Linked DNA regions of Homo sapiens. The protein of the gene in region 2 interacts with the protein of the main gene of each other region in a pairwise test. Each region holds a gene or a part of one and is shown on either strand. Other genes may lie near its edges.

Evidence for each region.
Region 1: the proteins of ETV3L (region 2) and NOTO interact in binary tests that used the Homo sapiens proteins (3 or more experiments, as listed by UniProt).

The regions. Positions count from the first base shown.
Region 1 is NC_000002.12:73,203,137-73,213,488, reverse strand, and holds the end of NOTO (homeobox protein notochord), read right to left. Parts: intron 5,090-10,352; coding exon 4,875-5,089; intron 2,719-4,874; coding exon 2,560-2,718; 3' UTR 976-2,559; downstream 1-975. UniProt on the Homo sapiens protein: Transcription regulator acting downstream of both FOXA2 and Brachyury (T) during notochord development. Required for node morphogenesis.
Region 2 is NC_000001.11:157,096,809-157,104,753, forward strand, and holds the start of ETV3L (ETS translocation variant 3-like protein), read right to left. Parts: upstream 3,001-7,945; 5' UTR 2,716-3,000; coding exon 2,658-2,715; intron 2,571-2,657; coding exon 2,333-2,570; intron 2,088-2,332; coding exon 1,898-2,087; intron 1,181-1,897; coding exon 1,060-1,180; intron 1-1,059. UniProt on the Homo sapiens protein: Transcriptional regulator.

The DNA.
Region 1 (10,352 bases), on a different chromosome or scaffold from region 2:
CTCGGTAATCCCTCTGGCAGCAGAACAGTCCTGCCAAAGGTCAGGGTGGACTTGTGCCTCTGTCAGATTCTTCAATGGCTTAGGGACCTTGCAACCGGGGGTAGCGGAGGAGTCCATAGGGGACCTCAGATCTGAGAACCTCTGAAACTGGATACAGAAGTGAGTGTGCATATGCACACACTGTCGTGAAAAGGGGGAGGGGCCTGTTCTCTCAGGACCCCAAGAAGCTGCAAACCACAGACCTATGGCATTTGTCCCCACAGCTAGGCCTGACTATCAAGCCTTGTTTTGTTTCCTTGTCCCCTGATTTTGTGAGTTTTGTTTGAGACAGGGTCTCGCTTTGTCGCCCATACTGGCATGGGGCGATCTCGGCTCACGGCAGCCTCCAGCTCCCGGGCTCAAGAACAGACTGGGCAACGTAGTGAGACCTTGTCTCTCCAAAAAATAGAAAAATTTGCCGGGCGTGGTGATGCGTGGGAGGATCACCTGAACCTGGGGAGGTCTAGACTGCAATGAGCCGTGATCAAGCCACAATTATCTATCAAATAATTATAGATAGATAGATAGTTGGCAGGGACAGAGAAAGGTTCTTGAAACTGACCCTGCCTCTCCTCAAGCTTGCAACCTGGTGTCAAGGAGCGAATAGTCCACGGACTTGGGGGAGATAGATAGTTGGCAGGGCCAGAGAAGAGGCTCTTGAAACCGACCCTGGGTCCCCTCAAGCCTGCAGCCCGGTGTCAGGGAGCGAATAGTCCACGTACTTGGGGGCAAACCTACCCGAGAGCAGCTGGGGGCCGTGCCCTCACTCACCACCAGGTGGCAGGGCAGGCTTCCTTCCATCCCTCAGCTCAGTCCCCAAGAGCCATTCTAGAATCTGAATGGTCTGTGCTACAGAAATCAGCTCTGCAAATCCTGGCAGCAGGCTTCTTTCAGAGAAATCGAGCACATTCTTGAGAAGAAAAAGGAGCCATGAGTCAGAGTCATGAAAGGGGGAAATTATAACTGTCCTGTGAAAACACAGCAGAGTTTATGACAAAATGCCAGCCTTGGCATACACAAATTATTCTATAAAAAGATGGGGCTTTGGGAGGCCAAGGCAGGAGAACCACTTGAAGCCTGGAATTCAAGACCAGCCTGGGCAACAAGTGGACGTTGTCTCTACAAAAAATGTTAAAAATTAGCCAGGCGTGGTGTCACGCGCCTGTAGTCCCAGCTGCTTAGGAGGCTAAGGTGGGAGGATCACTAGAGCCCAGGAGGTTGAGGCTGCCGTGAGCTATGATTGCACCACTGCACTCCAGTCTGGGTGACAGAGCGAGTCCTTGTCTTTGCTGCTGGGCCTGAGCTTCTTCTGAGAATGGTAACAGTTCAGACAAAACAAGAAAACGTTGGGAAACTTTGTGAAGTGGGCTAAACAGTCTACCTTCTCTTCTTTGCTCTCAACTCCTTCTGATGGTGAAGAGTCTTCTATGCCCAGATGCTTATTCAAAGAGGTTCCTTCTCCACAGCCAGGCCAGGAAAATATTAATTGCTGGTACAGGTATTACTCCCCCAGGTGAGGGGAGCTGTGATATTATGAAATATATATTTGGTCTTCATCTCGATTTCCTGGCATAGAACTCCTAAAATCCCTAGAATCTCTGAAGTGATGTCTTTTCATATGCTAATGAGTTGACTGATGACTGGTAGACCTTAAGACTCCATAAAAAACAAAAAGGGCAGGGTTGGGCCGGGTGGTGGCTCACACATGTAATCCCAGCACTTTGGGAGGCCGAGGTGGGTGGATCACAAGGTCAGCAGTTCAAGACCAGCCTGACCATATGATGAAACCCCGTCTCTACTAAAAATATAAAAATTAGCCAGGCATGGTGGCATGCGCCTATAGTCCCAGCTGCTCGGGAGGCTGAGGCAGGAGAATCGCTTGAACCCGGGAGGCGGAGGTGGCGGTGAGCCAAGATCGCGCCACTGCAGTCTGTCTCAAAAAAAAAAGAAAGGAGGGGCTGCCATGTGGAATGAGCCCTGAATCTGTGGGGTCAGACACTACCTGCAGGTAGATCATGTCAGAATTTGCTGAACTGGAGGTTGGAATGTGGGGTACACCCCTATACGTTTGGTCACAGAAGTGTTCTGTGTTGATTGTTGTGGGGTGACAGCAGAAGAAAAAAACTTTTTTTTTTCCAGTTGGTCTTCTCTACTCAGGGGCCTACAAGCCTTAACAGTAACCACACACTTTGCACTGTGCATGGCACATTATTGCTTTACAGACATCTTCTCACCCCTGGGTGATCTAAGTTATGAATGCACCCATTATACAGATAAAGAAAAAAGGCTCGGAAGTTCCATAGGTTGGCCAAGGACATAGCTGAAGGCCAGAGTCTGTGCCTCCAATCATTACATTATTCCAGTTTCCAGGAATCAGTATAGAAAAGGGGGTCCCTGCTTGACAGCTCAGATTCTTCTGGTTGAGGAGGCTTTTCGTTGAGGTGTGAGGCAGGGAGCTCCAGTGGGTACCCCCAGGAGGAACTAGTCCAGGCAGCCTGGCTAGGGCCTCTGTCCCAGTCTTCAGCCGTCCACTCCTGACTCGGCATCATCACTCTGGATACTGGCGATGGAGCTGCTGGAAGGCTCATCCAGGGAGGCAGCCTCGGCAGATGTAACTGCTGCCCTCAGCTTTTGCTGCTTCTGATACTTGACCCTGCGGTTCTGGAACCAGACTCTCACCTATAATTGGAGAGTGGGCAGAGATCAGAATGTGACCATCAGGTCCCACTGCTTCCTAATTCCTGGAGTGAACACCCCTCTCTGCCTGGCCAATATTTGCTCTTCCTTCTCAGGGAGGTACCTCCTCCAAAACACCCCTTTCTACAATTCCAGACACCATTCATTCATCTGAGTATTTACTGAGTTTCCAGTATGTGCTAAGCACCATCCTAGGTGATGCTGATACAGTGGTGAGCAACAGAGGCAAGCTGCCTGCCCTCGTGGAGCTCATGAGCTAGTGAAGAAACACTGGCAAGAAACATGTAAACAAACAAAGAGCTATGTAAACACAAAAGGGGGTACAAACAGGGGTTTGGGCAGAGGAGGCCTCCCTAAGGAGCCAGCATTAAAGCTGAGGCTCAAAGAGAGAGAGGCCCACCTGATGGGGACAGAGAAGAGCAGGTCTGCAGGGCAGGGAACAACCTGTAGGAAGGCTCTGAAATGGAACCAAGCTTGGAGTGTTTGAGGACCAGGAAGGAGGAGAGCACGGATGACAGTGAGAGGAGAAAGTCAAGGGAGGGAAATGGGAGAGGTCAGCGGGTGCCAGATCACCCAGGACCTGGAAGGCCATAGATAAGGAATGTCACCCATGAGGCTTTTACGTGGGCCCACATAATCCTATTTACATCTGAAGTGCACTGTGCACCTAGCTGCTGTGTGAAGCATGGATGGCAGCAGAAGCAGGAAGACAGGAGGGAGGCTACTGCAGCGGCCCCGGGAGAGCTGGGGCGTACATTAGGGGTGACAGAGAGAAGTGAAGCCACTCCAGCTGTATTTTGGAGGTAGAGATGACAAGGCTCAATGATGGTTGGAAGCGGAGGAGAAGGAGGAATCTAGGATGATTGGGTTTTTGAGTAACCAGGTGGACGGTGGGGTCATATATGGGAAAGGAACATATTTGGGCAAGAAAAAAGTCAGGAATTGAGGTTTAGACTTGGGTTTGAGATATGTGCCCATGAGACATCTAAGTGGAATCACCAAGAAGGTAGTTAGAGATATAAGTCAGATGAGATGGTTGTGCTGAGGATACAAATTTGGGAGTCATTGGCTTATAGATGGTATTTTAAGCCACGGGAATAGATGAGACCAGCTGGGAAGAGATTTCGAGGTCCCCAAGGGAAGAGTAGCCTGCCAAGGAGGCAGAGCTGGGAGGAAAACTAGACAGCATGGTGTCTGGAGGCTATGAGGAACATGTTTCAATAAGGGATGGGGTGGCTGACTGTCCAGTACTAAGAGCTGCTGAGTGGTGGACTGAGCTGAAGAAAGGAAAGTGTCATATTGTTGGCTCTGGCAACATGGAGGTTATTAGAGACCTTGCTGAGAAGTTTTGATGGAATGGTAGGGAAAAGTCATGTTGGAATGTGTGAAGCAGTGAGTGGGAGGCGAGGACACGGACAAAGTGAACATGGCAAGTTGTTGAGAAGTTTGCCTGTAAAAGGAGCAGAGAAATTATATAATAGCTAGAGAGGAATATAGGGGTCAAAGAAATATTGATTATATTGACTCTTTAATATCTACTTAATTTTTTTCTTCTTCTTCTTTTTTTTTTTTTTTTTTGAGACGGGCTCTCCAAATGTTGCCCAAGCTGGAGTGCAGTGGCGTGATCTCCGCTCACTGCAACCTCTGCCTCCCAGGCTCAAGCGATTCTCCTGCATCGGCCTCCTAAGTAGCTGGGATTATAGGCACCCAGCTGATTTTTTTGTATTTTTAGTAGAGACAGGGTTTCACTATGTTGGCTGGGCTGGTCTTGAACTCCTGACCTTGTGATCTGCCCACCTCAGCCTCCCAAAGTGCTGGGATTAGAGGCGTGAGCCACCGCACCTGGCCACATCTACTTAATTTTACTGGCAGGTCCTTATTTAGCATGGAAATCCTTTATTATCAATTTTTAGACTAATAATCTAAGTTAACATTCCAAGTTGTTCACATTATGTGACTTCAAATGGGACTTTTTTTTTTCATTATATAGAGTGTGCAAAAAGTCAGGGCCTGTCCCCTCAACAGCCTGGCACAGGGAAGAGGGCCCATATCTTCCTCCCACCCTCCTTTTAGGGCCTTGCTGAGGTAGTGTTTGTCCCCAGGTGCAGCCCAGGCCCAATAGGAGTCCCTACTCCCACCTGGTTCTCTGTAAGTTTGAGCCGAGCTGCCAGCTGGGCTCTCTTCTTCCCCACCAGATTGTGCTGTTTTGCAAACACTTTCTCCAACTCTTCCAGCTGCTCCAAGTTAAACATAGTTCGGACTCTCTTTTGCTGTCTCTCAGTGTCCTGTAGGTCCTCCGTTGGGGCCCAGTCTGGGAAGGCCCAGAGTCCTGAGCAGTGAGCCAGCTCCAACCCTAAAGAGCAACCAGCAGCAGGGGAGGTTATCCAGCAGCAGGGGAGGTTAGCCAGAAGCCCCCTGCACTCCCATCTGGGCAAAATGAGAAGGCACACACAGCTCTGCTACCTTGCCTTCCCCTTGGCCAGGTAACAGTGCAAGAAGACAGTGGAAAGAGACTGTGCAGAAATAACAGGAAACAAACAAATGGGAAAGAAGGGACAATGCAATGAGACTGTCTGCCACCACTACTCTCTAGCCAAGTGGCTTCACTTCTGGCCCCTAAGAGGAGTTGCCAAACCTCCCTTCTCTTTGCCTTCCTTTCCTCTCCTTGACTGCTTCTGGCAACGCCATGGAATGGGCAGAGAAGAGACCCCCAGGGGTTCACCCTTTTAATTCACTGAACAAATATTATACTTTTTGAATGTCTACTGTGTGTCATGCATGGTTTCAGGACAAAACAGAAAATCTCTGTCGTTATGGAGCTTACATCTTAGAAATGAGGTCAGAAGAGATAGAAGTCAGAAGAGAGGGTTGAGCTGAGGATACAAATTTGGGAGTCATCACTGAGCACGTTGGCTCATGCCTGTAATTCCAGCACTTTGGGAGGCTGAAGGGGGCGGATCGCTTGAGATCAGGAGTTCAAGACCAGCCTGGCCAACATGGTGAAACCCCGTCTCTACTAAAAATACAAAAATTAGCCAGGCATGGTGGCACATGCCTGTAATCCCAGCTACTCAGGAGGCTGAGGCAGGAGAACTGCTTGAGTCCGGGAAGCAGAGGTTGCAGTGAGCCAAGATAGAGCCCACTCTACTCCATCCTGGGTGACAGTGCAAGACTCTGTCTCAATTAAAAAAAAAATTGGGAGTCATCAGCTTATATAGATGGTATTTTAAGCCACGGGAATAAATGAGACCAAGCTGTGGGCCAGTGGAGATGCATCAACCAAGAGCAGTTCCTAAGTCAAATCTTGATGGGGATGAGGGAGTGAGCCATTGGGCTATCTGGGGGTATAGTATTCTAGGCAGAAGAATGGCAAGCATAATGCTAAGGCCACTCAGCCCCCACTAGCCTTGGGGAGTCCTCAGGGCTGGCAGACAGACTGCCCCAACAAAGGGAGTGTATCTGGGGTCCCGGCTGCTTAGGACTCCAACCACTGGGCCCACTAGGCTTACACTGTGCCTGCCAAGGTAGACCAAAAGATCAGGAAAAGCCCATCAGACATACAGCCTGGTGTATCTAGTCAGCCTTGTTTCAGAATCAGAAATTGACCTTTGGAGAAGAAAGTAGGCTGTACTGTGTGTTCCTTAAGAGCTCTAGTTGAGGCCGGGCATGGTGGCTTATACCTGTAATCCCAGCACTTTGGGAGGCTGAGGCAGGCGGATAGCCTGAAGTCAGGAGTTCAAGACCAGCCTGGCCAACTTGGCGAAACCCCGTCTCTACTAAAAATACAAAAATTAGCCAGATGTGGTGGTGGGCACCTGTAATCCCAGCTACTCAGGAGGCTGAGGCAGGAGAATCGCTTGAACCTGGAAGGCGGAAGTTGCAGTGAGCCAAGGTTGTGCCACTGTATTCCAGCCTGGGTGATAGAGTGAGACTCTGTCTTAAAAAAAAAAAAAAAAAAAAAAAAAGCTCTAGTTGGAATCCTAGCTCTGCCACCAATTACCAGCCAGAGGACCTTGGGCAAGACAATGTACTTCTGTGAGCCTTGATTTCCTCACATGTAAAATGGTGATAATAATCCCTACTTCCAGAGATGTCAGGATTTTAACATGGTGCTGTCTAGGCACAGTGGCTCATGCCTATAATCCCAGCACTTTGAGAGACTGAGATGGGCCCATCGCTTGAGCCCAGGAGTTTGAGACCACCCTGGGCAACATGGTAAAACCCTATCTCTACAAAAAATACAAAAATTAGTCAGGTGTGGTGGTGCACAACTGTAGACCCCGCTGCTTGGGAGACTGAAGCAGGAGGATCACTTGAGCTCGGGAGGCAGAGGTTGTAGTGAGCCAAGCCGAGATCACTCCTTGCCAATAGAGTAAGACCCCGTCTCAACAACAACAACTACCACAACAACAAAAACAAAAGCATATGATGCTTACAGGGTGCTTAGCACTGTGCCAGGCACAGAGCAAGAAGAAAGTCAATGGTTATTATAAAAATTAAAACAGAAGTGATAATCCAATGGGGAAGAGGGATTATTTCCAGATCTGGGAAAAATTAAGCTGGATCCATACCCAATACCTTGCACTAAAAAAAATCTAAATGGAGGAAATATTTAAATGTAAAAAGGTAAACCCACAAAAATTTAGAAAAAAATGGGGAAGTTATTTTATGACTTCACAGTGAGGAAGTTCTTTCCAAGTATCATATAAGATGTGGGGCCAGGCACAGTGGCTCATGCCTGTAATCCCAGCAGTTTGGGAGGCTGAGGCAGGAGGATCACTTGAGCCCAGGAGTTCAAGATCAGCCTGGGTAACATTGTGAGATTCCATCTCTACAAAATAAATGTTTTAAATTAGTCGAGTATGGTAGCGCATGCCTGTGGTCCCTGCTACTCGGGAGGCTGAGACAGGCATTGTGAGATTCCATCTCTACAAAAAAAAATGTTTTAAATTAGTTGAGTATGGTAGCGCATGCCTGTGGTCCCTGCTACTCAGGAAGCTAAGGAGGAGTGCTTAAGCCTGGAACATTGAGGCTGCAGTGAGCCGTGATCGCACCACTGCACTCCAGCATGAGTGACAGAGAACCTGTCTCAAAAAAGAAAAAAAAAAGGATTTGTAAAAACACATCAAACATAAAAATTAAAATTTTTTCTATGTAACAAAAGAATACCGCCATAATCAAAGTCAAAGGCCAATACACAGAAAAACATTTGTAGTTCATTACAGTTAAAGGGCTAATTTCTTTTTTAATTTTTTGAGACAGTGTCTTGTTCTGTTGCCCAGGCTGGAGTTCAGTGGCTTGACCTCGGCTCACTGCAACCTCTGCCTCCCAGGCACAAGCAATCCTCCCACTTCAGCCCCCGCCAAGGTGCGCACCACCATGCCCAGCTAATTTTTGTGTTTTTAGTAGAGACGGGGTTTTGCCATGTTGCCCAGGCTGGTCTCAACTCCTGAGCTGAAGTAGTCCACCCGCCTTGGCCTCCCAAAGTGAGGGAGTTACAGGGGTGAGCCACTGCACCCAGCCAGGGCTAATTTCCTCAATAGAAAAGAGCATCTACAAATAGATTGTTTTAAATAACCAACTATACATATGGGCAAAATACAAGAACAGTAGTTCACAGAAAAAGAAATACATCACGAGGTCAGGAGATCAAGACCATCCTGGCTAACATGGTGAAACCCCGTCTCTACTAAAAATACAAAAAATTAGCCAGGTGTGGCGGCATGTGCCTGCAGTACCAGCTACTCGGGAGGCTGAGGCAGGAGAATGGCGTGAACCCGGGAGGCGGAGCTTGCAGTGAGCCGAGATTGCACCACTGCACTCCAGCCTAAGGACAGAGCAAGACTCCGCCTCAAAAAAAAAAAATAAAAAAATAAAAAAAATTAGCCGGGCATGGTGCTGGGGCTTGTAATTCCAGCCACTCCAGAGGCTAAGGCAGGAGAATCACTTGAGACCGGAAGGAGGAGGTTGTAGTGAGCAGAGATAGCGCCACTGCACTCCAGCCTGGGAGACAGAGTGAGACTCCGTCTCAAAACAAAACAAAACAGAACAAAAGAAAACAACTAACTTGAAAATGAGGCAACTGTAACATGAAGTAGTAAACTGTAATTCAGACCTCAGGTGTGTGAAGAGCTCAGAGAAAGGTGACTGGGAGTGATGGGCACAGCTCCCAGATCCAGTGGTATTGAATTTAGATGGGGCTGCGAGTCCAAGGGTTAATGCACTGCTGAAATGGGGTGAGGAAATGCAGGATTGGGGTGGGTGCCACGGAGTAGGAACCCGGCAAGACTGTGTTACAACTATCTTTGTATGGGTTGATAAGGCTTGGACTAACTTTGCTCCTGTTTTCTTCGTGGGGACATGGGGAAACATGAACCTGGCAACCAAAAATGGCAAAAGCACGTGTAGGTGGATGTTTAATGCTAGAAGGCAAAGTTCCCTCTATAGTTACTTTTTTTTGTTGATTTGTTTGTTTGAGACGGAGTCTCACTCTGTTGCCCAGGCTAGAGTGCAGTGGCGCAATCTCGGCTTAATGCAACCTCAACCTCCCGGGTTCAAGTGATTCTCCTGCTTTAGCCTCCTGAGTAGCTGGGATTACAAGCGCGCGCCACCACGCCCTCCTAATTTTTTGTCTTTTTTTTTTTTTTTTTTTTTGAGACGGAGTTTCGCTCTGTCGCCCAGGCTGGAGTGCAGTGGCGCGATCTCGACTCACTGCAAGCTCCGCCTCCCGGGTTCACGCCATTCTCCTGCCTCAGCCTCCTGTGTAGCTGGGACTACAGGCACGCGCCACCATGCCCGGCTAATTTTTGTATTTTTAGTAGAGACGGGGTTTCACCGTGTTAGCCAGGATGGTCTCGATCTCCTGACCTCGTGATCCGCCCGTCTCGGCCTCCCAAAGTGCTGGGATTACAGGCGTGAGCCACCGCGCCCGGCCAATTTTTTGTCTTTTAAGTAAAGATGTGGTTTCACCATGTTGGCCAGGCTGGCCTTGAACTCCTGACTTCAGGTGATCCACCCGCCTCGGTCTTCCAAAGTGCTGAAATTACAGGCGTGAGCCACCGCGCCCAACCTTACAATTACTTTCTCATGAGATTTAAGTGCCTGGCCCTTAAGCACTACTTAAGAGCATTGCATGCACGCAGGCTCAGAGCGAAGTGTGTAGCTCAAGTTCACAGACGTGAGCAGTGGAGGCGGTAGTGGGGTGTGAGCCTTGACCAGCTCCTAACAGCTCCTCGCTCAACAGCACCGCCCGGAGCGTCCACTTCCCCCTACCCCGTAAAAAAAAAAAACAGGGCCATTGGTTCGGGTCGAGAGCCGCTTTGGGAAGCGTCTCTGTCACTAAGCGCTACCCCGGGGTGTGCGAGGGAGTCAAGGGACGCGGAGACCGGGAGCAGGGCTGGGTCCCCTTGCAGCCCCAGCGCTGGCCTCCTGCCCACCGCATTCAGGCGCTGCGCCGCCCTCACACCCACCCTCTCCCACCTCAGCAGCGTGCGGGGGAAGCCTCGCGCCGGGGTCTTTTTCAGCAAGACTGTCGCGGTCCTCGGCTTCAACTGCAAGGTAAACGGTGGCAGAGCCCCTTCCCACTCCAGCCGTGTGTGATTCTCACACTCAGTGCC
Region 2 (7,945 bases):
CTTGGGAGGCTGAGGCATGAGAATCGCTTGAACCCAGGAGACGGAGGTTGCAGTGAGCCGAGATTGTGCCATTGCACTCCAGCCTGGGCAGCAAGAGCAAAACGCCATCTCAAAAAATAATAAAAGAAAGTAAAATAAAATGAAAGTCTGACCATGGATCTCCCTCCCAGTCCCTCCTGCCCACAGGAGAAAGTCCTGCTCCCTTAGCATGGCTTGTGCGGCCTCTGTGGCCTGACACCTGTTTGCCTTGCCAGCCCTGTCTCTCATCCGTCCTGCTTGTTCCCACCGCATCGCAAGACTTGCTCTCCAACAGCAAACTACCAGCTGTTCTCCAGATTTGCTACACTTGTTCACAGCTTTTTGCTTTATAAATGCTATTTCTGACTGGGTGTGGTGTCTCACACCTGTAATCCCAGCAGTTTGGGAGGCTGAGGCGGGTGGATCACCTGAGGTCAGGAGTTTGAGACCAGCCTGGCCAACATGGTGAAACCCCGTCTTTACTAAAAATACAAAAATTAGCTGGGCGTGGTGGTGCATGTCTGTAGTCCCAGCTACTCAGGAGGCTGAGGCATGAGAATCACTTGAACCTGGGAGGCAGAGGCTGCAGTGAGCTGAGATCCTGCCACTGTGTTCCAGCCTGGGCAACACTGAGACTCCGTCTCAAAAAAAAAAAAAAAAAAAAGAATAAATAAATGCTATTCCCTCTGCTTAGGCATCTTTTCCCACCTCCTTCACCTGCCCCAGTGTTGTGTCCTCTGGGAAGCCCCAGTTCCTTCTCTGGGCCTGAATGCACAGCACCTAGTGCTTACCTGAATGCCAGCAGCAGTCGCTGGCAGTAATCCCATCTCTGCTCCCCACTAGGTTCTGAGCCTCTTGAGCCTTTCATCTCTGAACCCCCGCACTTAGTAAATAGCTGGTGTTCAATAAATGTTGGTCGAATGAATGAATGAGTTACATAGTATCCCTTGTCTCATGCCCCCTCAGCCATGTACTCAGCCAGGAGGGCCCTCCCTCCTCTGGCTAAGATCCCCCTGGGCCCTCCCAGCCTTGAGCACTCACGGTAGACGCTGCTGCTGCTCCCCTTCTTATCCCCAGAGGTCTCTGGTGGCCCTCGGGGGGTCTGCTGTCCTGTCAGCTGCTCCACCATGGCCTGATGGGCAAATAGCATGCTGTGCAGGAGCTGAGGGGTGAGAAGTAGGTGCGAGGTGTGATGGGCTCTCCTTGGCATGTATCCTCCAGTACAATCTGGTACTGTTAGCCAGTTGCTAAAACAATGAAATACTCTCATACCGATTTTTTTTTTTTTGAGTTGGAGTCTTGCTCTGTCACCCAGGCTGGAGTGCAGTGGCGCCATCCTGGCTCACTGCAACCTCTGCCTCCTGGGTTCAAGCGATTCTCCTGCCTCAGCCTCCCTAGTAGCTGGGATTACAGACATGTGCCACCATGCCCAGCTACTTTTATATTTTTATTGGAGATGGGGTTTTGCCACGTTGTCCAGGCTGGTCTCGAACTCCTGACCTCAAATGATCCGTCCACCTCGTCCTCCCAAAGTGCTGGGATTACAGGTGTGAGCCACCACGCCTGGCCTCTCATACCCATTGTTAAAAGCCCACTGCCACGGCTGCCTACAGTCTCAGATGCCCTGGGCCCTTCCCTCTGATCCACCCCTAAAGGAGTGGCGACTAGGACAGAAGGAGCCACCCTTTCTCACAGGTGGGTCCTGTACCACCTGGATTGTTAATACCCCTGCCTCTGGGGCACTCAGGGTCTAGGATGCAGGAGGAGAAGAAAACTGGAGGCTGATGGGCCCCAGAGGCAAAGAGGAGGGTGGGGAGCCTCCTGGGCAGAGGGGTAGGACCTGGTGGAGCCCTGAGACAGGGGCCACCTCCGCTCTTACCTCACTCTGCACACCCACGGGCACCAGCGCTGGCCGACACAGGGCAGGGGCCCCCAGCAGCAAGTGGGGGGATGGCGGCGCCCGCACTTCCCACAAAGGATAGTTGACTACGATGAGCTTGCTGAAGTTGAACTTGTATGTGAACCTTTTGCCTTTGGTCTTATGCAGGATCCTCTTATTGTAGTAATATCTGGAGAATTCGAAGTTGAGAATAGAGTTGGCCCAGCAGTCAGAGAATAGAGTCAGGGACCCAGTCACATTCTCCTCCCTAGCCGGGCTGACCCTAAGCTGTTCCCCGAGAACCACTAGGCTGCTCACCACAGGCCAGGACACTTCCCAAGCCTTGGAGGGGTGGGAGTCAGCAGGGGTACCAGAAACCACGGCCCTTTTCCTTGAAATCCCCCCTCTTTGGCCATGTCAGCCGCCTCCTCTCACCTGAGGGCCCGGCTCAGCTTGTCATAATTCATCTGTGGTTTGCATTTCCTGCGGCCCCAGAGGCGGGCCACCTCATCTGGATCCTTGATGACAAATTCCCCGTACTCTCCCTGCTGCCAGGCGATGACATGGCGGAACTCTTCCTTCTGCAGCAGCTCCAGGATGAAGTGCCACAGCTGGATCTGCCGGGAGCCTGGGGACGACTCGGCTTTGTAGGCCCAATCAGGGAAGGCCAACCCTGGGTGGAGAGGGGAGAGTGAGGGCTCTGGAGGCCCTGCCCTAGGCCACCGTTGGAGCAGGGGGTAGGCCCGGCCAAGAGGCTCACCTGAGATCCAGTTGCCGGGGTTGGCTGGGATGCCCTCAGCCAAGCAGCTGCAGTGCATGGTCCACTCCGGCGAGATGGGCTGTGTCTGGGCCTTGGGGAAATGGTCACCACTTAAGAGGAAGGGAAGGAAGGAGGCAGAGGGGAGGACAGTGAAAGAGGAAGGAAAAATGGAGGGAAAGAAGGAAGGAAGGGAGAGGGTCAGGAAAGAAAGAGAGAAAAGGGAAGGGACAAGAGGTTGCCAGTGAAGGGGAGAAAAGGGAACCAGAGGCAGCAAGCTTCCCCATACCCAGACAGGGCCCAGCCCCCTCTGGGGACCTCCCCGCTGCCCAGGGCTGACTCGGACTCAGGGCTTCCGGCTGAGCTACTTATATAGATGGAGAGAAGTGCAAAGGGTCCTATATCCTGCCCCTGCTGGGGGATTTAGACAGAGAATGAGATCTCTTCTTAGGGCTTAACAGGATTGGAGTTTTTCCCAAGAGAAGACAAAAGGAAATGTAATTAATCATGGGCTCATTCTAAATCTTGAGTGGGAAGGAGGTGGCATATACACATACCTGTGCCTTTACAGTATTTCTTTTTTTTCTTTCTTTCTTTCTTTTTTTATTTTTTTTGAGACAGAGTCTCACCCTGTCGCCCAGGCTGGAGTGCAATGGGGTGATCTCGGCTCACTGCAACCTCCGCCTCCTAGATTCAAGCAATTCTCCTGCCTCAGCCTCCCGAGTAGCTGGGATTACAGGTGCATGCCATCACGCCCAGCTAATTTTTTTTATTTTTTATTTTTAGTAGAGATGGGGTTTCACCATGTTGGCCAGGCTGGTCTCGAACTCCTGACCTCGTGATCCGCCCACCTCGGCCTCCCAAAGTGCTGGGATTACAAGTGTGAGCCACTGCACCTGGCCGCCTTTACTGTATTTCAAACAATTTGACATTTGAGAAGAGCAGGAATTTGGTTTTTTTGTTTGTTTGTTTGTTTTTTTGAGATGGAGTCTCGCTCTGTCACCCAGGCTGGAGTATAGTGGTGAGATCTCGGCCCACTGCAACCTCTGCCTCCCAGGTTCAAGCGATTCTTCTGCCTCAGCCTCCTGAGTAGATGGGATTACATGTGCCCACCACCATGCCCAGCGTATTTTTGTATTTTTAGTAGAGACAGGGTTTCGCCCTGTTGGCTAGGTTGGTCTCAAACTCCTGACCTCAGGTGATCCGCCTGCCTCCGCCTCCCAAAGTGCTAGGATTACAGGTGTGAGCCACCGTGCCCAGACGAGCAGGAATTTTTATGGGCTTTTTTTTGCCAGTCCCAAGGGCCTGGCGCAAAATAGGTGTTCAATAAATGATTGCTGATCGAATGAATGAATGGTAATGGACTTATAGATAGTGTCTTCTTTGTTGAACATCTGTATCCCGCTCAGAGTGTCAGCTCCGAGATCAGCAACCCTAGCTGTCTTGTTCTCCTCTGCTGGCTCCCCAGATCCCATCGTAGCACAGGACATCGTACTCAAAGGTGCTTTATAGATATTTGTTGAATTGGTGAACCATGGACAGGAACCGGGAATCTTGTGGTTCTCCGCTGAGAAGGGTGGGGAGTTTATGGAATGAGCCCTAGTGAGATAGACTTGCCTGATATAGGAAAAGAGAACAAAATATCTAAGCTCTAAAGCCTTCTGGATGGAACAGAAAGCCTTCTGGATGGTGCAAAAGGCTGGTTTCCACTATAACTAATGGAAGATGAAACAATATGCAAAGGGACTGGGAGAGGCTGCCTTGGGGATGCAGCACATGGGAACTGCTCCTGGTGGGCCAGGGCATTGGGAGGTTCCTGGGCGCTTAGGACTGCCTGTGAACAGGGTTACGTGACCCGGGCCTGGCTCTCCATCTCTGGTGGAGTTAGTGTGCAGTAGTCTCAGTGAGAACTTATTAGGCTGTGAGGTCTGGAGGGCGTGTGAGGATTTGTCTGGAGGGCATGTGAGGATTTGTCTGGAGTTGCTTCCTCACTTTCCAGAGGAGGCTCAGACAGGGAAAATGACTTGACCAAAGACAGGTGGTGAGTTAGCTGCCCTGCCCCCTGACTCCTAATCCATAGCACTTTCTCATATACTGAGTTGCCTTAAGACTTAAAAAAAAAAAAAATCTATGTTGGTGATTTTCAGACTCTAATGCGAATAGGAATGATCTGAAGGTCTCTTTAAAATACGGATTCTGATTCAGTGGGATTTGGGGGACCTAAGACTCTGTACTTCTATTATTTATTTATTTATTTATTTATTTTTTGAGACAGAGTCTCACTCTGTCACCCAGGCTGCAGTGCAGTGGCATGATCTCAGCTCACTGCAACCTCCAGGTACAGGCAATTCTCCCACCTCAGCCTCCCAAGTAGCTAGGACTACAGGCACCCATCACCACGACTGGCTAATTTTTGTATTTTTAGTAGGAATGGGGTTTCATTATGTTGGCCAGGCTGGTCTCAAACTCCTGACCTTAAGTGATCCACCCGCCTTGGCCTCCCAAAATACTGGGATTACAGGCGTGAGCCACCGTGCCCAACCAAGACTCTGCACTTCTTTTTTTTTTTTTTTTTTTTTTTTGAGACAGAGTCTTGCTCTTTTGCCCAGGCGGGAGTGCAGTGGTGCAATCTCAGCTCACTGCAAGCTCCGCCTCCCGGGTTCACGCCATTCTCCTGCCTCAGCATCCCGAGTAGCTGGGACTACAGGCACCCGCCACCACACCCGGCTAATTTTTTGTATTTTTAGTAGAGATGGGGTTTCACTGTGTTAGCCAGGATGGTCTCGATCTCCTGACCTCGTGATCCACCTGCCTCGGCCTCCCAAAGTGCTGGGATTACAGGCGTGAGCCACCGCGCCCAGCTGACTCTGCACTTCTAACAAGCTCCTAGGTGATGCTGCTGCTGCTGGTCTGCAGACCATACTTTGAGCAGTGAGAACCCATAGAACCCATGGGATGCAGCAAAAAGAGGCTGTGGATATCAGAAAGTCAGGGAACCCTAGACACTTCAGGTTGTAAGAATCCTGGCACCTCCCACTCCTGGCACCAAATCATCTGGTCTCTCGCTCTCCGTTTCCCAGGGAATGCTCAGTGCCAGGGATGTAAACTGACAGACAGGCAGTTAGGGGTGGGAGCTTGGAGGCACACATTGTGGCCTGAACTGAGAGTGTCTCTGGAAATTAAGGTGAATAGGGCAGTGAGTAGATCCAAGCTCACCTGGAATCTGCATGAATAGGTTATCCTACTCATCCCTCTGTCTCTAAACTGGCAGCTGACATTCTGGAGTCTTCTCCCCTTTCCTCCCCTGAAGCAGATGCCCCCACTCCTCTTCCAACCTCCTTTCCTTCCCTGTCTACTTGGAAATTCCTCCTCAGTCAAACCTCAATCTGATTAGGATCTCTTCTGCTTCACCTTAGGAAAATGGGCTGGGAAATGGGGCAGGGTGCAGAGGTGAGTTTTGAGAGATTCCAAGGTACGACTGTTCTCTGGAGGAAGCTGATAGAATTTCCTATGGCTCCCCCTGGCACCTGCTGAGTCTGATGGTGTTTTCTGGTCTGAAGGATGTGAATGAAACCTTAGGGTAGATTTAGGATCTGGCAAGAAGAGAATAATAAACCCCACCACTGACCAGACACTCAGTGTGCTCTGCACTACTTTAAGCGATTGAAATAGACATATACTGAAACCTCACAGGAGGTAGCAGAGGGGTTGCATAACTTCCCTAAGGCCATACAGCTCTTAAATAAAAGAGGGGAAAGCAAGACCTTGAGTCAAGATTTATAGTGTTCGGCCATCTAGGTAGGCTCCCAACACCCCCTCCCCGACTCCCCCAAAAGAAAAAAAGCCTCAAAATACAAAACCAAAGTGGCATGAGTAGGCAAGGTCAAGTCTCCAAGCTTCCTGATGCCAGCAGTCTCCTCCCCAGCCTCTCCCGTGTCTGTGAGAGTCCCTGGTGGATCCTTAAGTCTCTGAGGAGCTTGCCAGCTCTGGGTGTGGAAATCCTTGCTGCTGACAAGTCCTGCCAAACGCCTTCCCTCCATCCTTCCTTTTCTACATGAGCCTCGGAGCTGACTGGGGAACACTCAGAAAACACCAGGTCTCAGTTCTGCCTTCATGTCCAAGAGCTGTTCTTGGCACTTAACCTTAACTCCATGCGCTTCACTTTAATCCATGCTCTGGTGGTGATGCTCCCAAGGCTGGGGGAGGTAGTCCCATTCCGTCCCCACCCCGCCCCTATCTTCCAGGCTCCCACTCCTCCCCTCTTGTGCTGTGGGCTAGACACACAAAGCTTGGGGAAGCTCTAACCATGGGTTCTGCACAGCCACTGATTCCCCAAGACCCCCTATGGCAAGATCTTAGAGGAGAATGAGTATTGAAAACCATAAATCAAAAAGGATCATAACCCAATCTCAAATGATCAAAGTGGCTTCTCTTAAGCACTTTGTGTTTCTTGAAGGGTTGTAGCAGCCAGCAATTAGTATTGTCATCACACCATCATTCTGATTACTAATAATATGATTAACCCCCTTGGCCAGTGTAAATGTTCATTACAACACATGTATGTTTTAGGTCATTACTTAATAAAAGCAATACAGATGCTGAAGATAACAGTAGAGAGTAAGCCTTAAGCTAGGGCTTGGAGCCAAAGGAAATGTCCAAAGCACAGGTCACCTTTTGAAGATTTTAGTTAATATGAATTGAGCCCCTATCATGCTCCCAGTATGGGGTTTAACATGTTTTCCTATGTTACTTCATTGACTCTTCACAATAACCCTTCGAGATGGGCATTATCTGTTTTGTATGCTAAGGAAATTGAGGCTCAAGATTAAGAGACTTGCATAATATCCTGGCCAAGTGGTGGAGCTGGATGGGAACAGGTCTGTCTGACTTCAGGCTCCAAGCTGTAATCAGTCAATCAGGGCAGAAAAGTTGAGGATGAAACTTCAGAGCAGAGAGGTGAGGCTGATGGGAGGCCCTGGGCCCTGAAGGAAGCACTTCTAGTCTAAACCCTCCATGTGGGCTCTTTGCTGGAAAAATTATCCACAGAGTCCCCAGAAAGCCAGAGGACAGCCAGCCAAATGGGCAGAGAGCAATACAGAAAGGATGAGAAAGACAAGAACCTACAGAATCTTAAAAAAAAAAAAAAAAAAAGTCAGAGTGTTCAAGACCAATGCCGCATGTATACAAAGTGGAAAGTTGCATCAAAAGTCCCTTTGTTGTTGGGGCCTTTTAAGGGGCTGAAGTGGATTGACTGCATAATCAGATTGATTGGACAAACCAAGTGTTTTCAG